Linked DNA regions of Homo sapiens: region 1 is linked to region 2. Evidence: fine-mapped expression QTL. Tissue or cell type: blood mononuclear cells. Region 2 holds a variant in brackets; the other region holds the start of a gene. All regions are shown on one strand. Distances are from middle to middle.

Region 1 (2,689 bases), 34 kb after region 2:
AAAAAGTAACTTCTGAGGATCACACAGCTGGTCTAGTACTTGAGGTTGTGTCCTGGTTCAGTGGTCTTTGCTTGAAAACATAAGATGGAAAACTAGACTGAACTTCATTTAATATAGATGTGTCAGTATCACAGCTCAAAATCTGCCGGTGAGAAGCTGCTGTTGTATTTCCAGCTAGGAAAAGTCAGGAATCTTTCAAGTTTCCACTCAAGATGTGGGGTTTCACTGTATGGGCAACAACATGGTCATGAATGTACGCCTCTACGAGAACTGGGTTTTGATGCTCAAGTATTTTGATATTGGAAGAGAAGATTTTCCTAGCAGGAAATCTGATGCGTGCATTTGGTAGTGCTACTGAGAAACGAATCAAATATATCTTGTGTAACAGTAAAAAGAAGTGGGAAGATTCTGACACAATGACATCCTGGCTGGAGGAGTTTAGCCGACACTTAGCGCACAGGAGATGAGTTCTTTCCATCTCCTAAAGAGGAAAAAGGGCAAATTCACCCAGAGAAGGAGAGAAAATGTGTTCCATAATCTATTGAAATTTATGTTCAGTAACGAACTTTGGACATCTAAGCTTGTTAGCTGCAAATACCCCTTAAGAGTTCTACAAAAAAATGCTGCTACGGAATTGCAAAGATTTTGAAATGCAGTACTACAGTGACAGCTGATCCGGGTCCATACCTGCAAGCAGAGGGCTAGTGACCCTTTCGTGTCCATCTTTTTATCAGCGGCCTCTAACCAAGCGGCCTCTCTGTGGGTACCCCCTACCTACCCCATCCCATATTGTGAACTATTATATTTTCTGTCTGCAACCTGGAACCTGACCCTTTTTCCCTGTCTCCAACTCCCGCCAGGGGCCGGCCTCCTTACCTTCCTTCCTCTCCCACCGGTCCACAGAAAAGTTGGCGCCCCCGTCTACCTGTGCCAGAGCCTGGCACACCTGGGCCTGGGTCTCCAGAATCAGCAGCTCCATCTTGGTCTTCATGTCGCCCGGCCTCCTTCGCAGCTCGCCCAGGTCGGTCACAGGCGGGGCCATGAAGCTGCTGCAGCGGTGGGCCAGCTCATCCTCCTCCTCCTCCGGCCTCCCCAGCGAAGTGGCCCGCGTCCCCGAGGTCTTAGGCAACATCTCCGCCCGCTGCACATGCCCGAAGGCGGCGGTGGCCAGCCCCACCAACCCCGCCAGCGCCGCGGCCAGCCCTGTCCCCACCCAGGGGCCGCCTCTCGACGTCGAGCCGTGCCCCAGCCCGCGGCTCTGCTCCGTGCCAGCCGGGCCAGGGGGCCGGCAGACGCGTCCGGCTGCGCTGCGCTGGGACCAGGCTCGGAGCCCTCCGCCGCCGCACTGGGACCAGGCGCGGGGCCCTCCGCAGCCGCCCCGCGCCACGAGCCAGCAGGGGCCCGAGCTCAGCCTGCCCAGCTGCAAGGCCATGTTCCCGCACTATCACCTGGAGCAGTGCCTGCGTCCCAGAGCCCTGCGTTTGAGCCCCCCACCCAGACCCCCGGAGTATTGAGCCGGCGAGCTGCACAGGCGGAAAGAACCTTTCGAGAAGAGCCGCTGCAGCGTCGGGCTCCGGAGGCGGGGGCGGGAACTGGGGCGCGCTGGGAGCTGTAGTCCGGATCCTATCGCCGCCTGCGGCGTCCCTGCGCGGGGCGGGAGATAAGAATCCGACGCGCCCAGAAGGGCTGGTCCGAAGGGAAGAGAGTGGGGCGGGGACGGTGCTGTGGAAGGGACGGGAGAGATAAAAGAGGCTTTCTTGTCACGTACAACCTCGGGTCGGCTGTTTACTCAGCCAAGGAGAGAAGATAGAGTAGGGCTGGGAGGCTGAGGGCGGACTGGGGCGGAAATGTGGCAGAGATCCCAGTCCCGCTTACATTTTCAAACAGGATTTGCGAATACAGAGCCTGGCTCAGGATCTGTATAGACCCGCCCTTCGCCCTGGGTCCTGGTCCTCTAGAGTTTTTAGAGGGGATGGGCAGGCTGGGAAACTCTTTGCTGAAGGATGGTTTTCTAAAGAGAGTGGGAGAAGCTAGTAATGGACTCGGAAGAGAGTCGAGGAGAAGACTTTCTGTGATCGAGTCCACATCACAGTTCTGTCCTTAAGATTTCCCCAGGCTGGGGCCGGGCGCGGTGGCTCAAGCCTGTAATGCTAGCATTTTGGAAAGCCGAGGCGGTTGGATCACATGAGGTCAGGAGTTCGAGACCAGCCAACATGGTGAAACCCTGTCTCTACTAAAACTACAAAAAAATAGCCGGGCGTGGCGGCGTGCACCTGTAGGCTCAGCTACTCGGGAGGCTGAGGCAGGAGAATCGCTTGAACCCGGGAGGCAGAGGTTGTAGTGAGCCGAGATCGCACCACTGCACTCCAGCCTGGGTGACAGAGTGAGACTCTGTCTCAGAAAAAAAAAAAAAAAAAAAAGGTTTCCCCAGGCCTTGCTTCTATAGTGCCTACTTGATTATTTTAGAAAAAGGAAAAGCAACGTGACTGTTTTGGTTAACCAGTAGAAAATTCCTGACTTGGTGTGTTTTGGTGATTAACAAATAAGAATTTAAAAAATAGTTATTCTACTACTGTAGGGTGCTCCCAAATATTGCTCACGTTTAATACTTACAACAACTGCTACAAACTAGGCAAGGCAAATATCCACACTTCCTCCTACTCTGTCTCCCTTCCCCCACCCTTTAAAG
Region 2 (2,689 bases):
CTCCTTGTGTACATGTGTTCAAAAACCCTACCTTGAAGTCAAAGCTTACATATATATACATCACATATTAGGTAAGAACATAATTGACATAAATTTGTGTTGGAATAAAAGCATAGCTATTTTAATCAGATTTATAGTCCTATATGTACTTCAGCATTCACTTCAGCTGTTTGGAAAAAAAGAACAAAATAAGAAGCTGGATCTCTCTCAACCCTTATGTCAAAATACATTTCTGGTGCAGTGATGTGCTAGAGTTGGCATATATCAGCTGGCAAGAGCCAACTGTGCACATCTTTTCCTAACTCTGTGTTCAGCGAAGTCACATGGGCAGCTTGAAATTGGACATGATGGGAGTATTTACACTTTGGAAATTGGCAAATACTACAATTCAGAGCTTTTTGTTGTTGTTTTGAGAGCCAATTTTGTAGTCATTGCTACTGGTAGGAAAAAACTAGTATCTTATTAACTCAGAAGATAATATGGGAGTTTTCCTTTGAACAATTCCCAGTGTGGTAGGGAAAGCTTTATAAAACCTAAAATCTTTTTCTAAAAGATACATTTTACACAAACACATAGACCAATGGAACAGAATAGAGAACTCAGAAATAAGACTGCACACCTACAACCATCTGATCGTCGACAAACCTGACAAAGACAAGCAATGGGAAAAGGGTCTCTATTTAATAAATGGTGCTGGGAGAACTGGCTAGCCATATGCAGAAAATTGAAACTGGATCCCTTCCTTGTACCTTCTACAAAACTAAAACTCAAGATGGATTAAAGACTCAAATGTAAAACCCAAAACAATAAAAACCTTAGAAGAAAATCTAGGCAATACCATTCAGGACATAAGCACAGGCAAAGATTTCATGATGAAAACACCAAAAGCAATTGCAACAAAAGCAAAAATTGACAAATGGGATCTAATTGAACTAAAGAGCTTCTGCACAGCAAAAGAAATTATCATTAGAGTGAACAGACAACCTACAGAATGGGAGAAAATTTTTGCAATCTATCTGATGGGCAAAGGTCTAATATCCAGAGTCAACAAGGAACTTAAACAAATTTATAAGAAAAAAACAACTCCTTTTAAAGGTGGGCAAAGGACACGAATAGACACTTCTCAAAAGAAGACATTCATGCAGCCAACAAACATATGAATAAAAGCTCAATATCACCTATATTAGAGAAATGCAAATCAAAACCATAATGAGACACAATTTCATGCAAGTCAGAATAGCAATTACTACAACATCAAGAAACAACAGATGCTGGTGAGGTTGCTGAGAAAAGGGAAC[A/G]CTTTTACACTGTCAGTGGGAATGTAAATTATTTCAACCATGTGGAAGACAGTGTGGCAATTCCTCAAACATCTAGAAGCAGAAATACCATTTGACCCAGCAATCCCACTACTGGGTATATACCCAAAGGAAAATAAATCATTCTATTTTAAAGATACATGCATGCATGTGTTTATTGCAGCAGTATTCCCAATAGCAAAGACATGGAATTAACCCAAATGCCCATCAATGATAGACTGGATAAAGAAAATGTGATACATATACACCATGGAATACTACGCAGCCATAAAAAGGAACAAGATCATATCATTTGCAGGGACATGGATGGAGCTGGAAGCTGTTATCCTCAGCAAACTAATGCAGGAACAGAAAACCAGGCACTGCATGTTCTCACTTATAAGTGGGAGCCAAATGATGAGGACACATGGACACACGGTGGGCAACAACACATGTTGGGGTGTGTCATGGGAGCAGGGGGAGGGAGAGCATCAGGAATAATAACTAATAGATGTTGGGCTTAACACTTAGGTGATAGGTTGATCTGTGCAGCAAACCACCATGGCACGCATTTACCTATGTAACAAACCTGTATATCCTGCACATGTACCCCAGAACTTAAAATAAAAATTGATGAAAAAATAAAAGATACATTTTACTACAAAAAGTAAACATTTTCTGCCCTAAAAAGATGTATAAACTATGTTACAATAAAAATTTCAAAATGGGGAAAAACATGCATACTTATAAAAAAGGGCTAATTTTCTTATTATACAAAAAGCTCTAATAGCAAAAAGATCAATTCAATATAAAGCGAGTTAAGATATAAATTGGCAGTTAACAGAAATATAAATATAAATTGTCAATGAATATTTTATAAATGCTCAACCTCCTGCATAACTAAGTCCAAGTTGGAAAAAAAAAAACTTTTTTAAAAGTTATAAAATGGCAAAATTATAGTGTGAGCTTCAATGTTGAGGGTAGGTATGGAGAAGCCCACTCATTCACTGTGGGACACTGTTAAATTAAATTGCATATTATTAAGTGAAATTTAAAATTCACACTCTTTTCAACTATTTTCAATTCTATTCCTAAGAATTTGTTTTACAGACTTTTTATATTCTCACAAAAATAAGTAGACGTGGATGATCATTGTGACATTGTTTGTCTATTAGTTATCTACTCCTGTGCTTAAAAATTACCCCAAAACTTTAAAGTTTAAAGTCATAATAGACATCATTATCTCATAGAGTTTCTGTGTCTCAGTTATTGGAGAGCAATTTAGTTGAGTGGCTGTTTCATGGGGTTGTAGTCAATGTGTTGACAGAGACTGCAGTCATCTCAAAGTCTGACTGGGGCTGGAAGATCCAATTCCAATTTGACCTGTGGGCTGA

The links. PIP is the estimated chance that this variant, and not a neighbour inherited with it, causes the effect.
Region 1: it holds the start of CPOX, and the variant in region 2 is fine-mapped to the expression of CPOX in blood mononuclear cells (TOPMed, PIP above 0.99).

Annotation. Positions count from the first base shown.
Region 1 is chr3:98,592,073-98,594,761 of GRCh38, forward strand. CPOX (coproporphyrinogen oxidase) reads right to left here and starts at 1,539. Exons shown (of 7, transcript NM_000097.7): 1 at 877-1,539. The coding sequence starts at 1,432. RefSeq lists a silencer at 1,078-1,527 and an enhancer at 2,028-2,077.
Region 2 is chr3:98,558,345-98,561,033 of GRCh38, forward strand. No RefSeq gene overlaps it. Among named protein-coding and RNA genes, the nearest start is that of GPR15, 28 kb to the left of the region's middle. The variant A/G (reference allele first, on the strand shown) is at 1,299.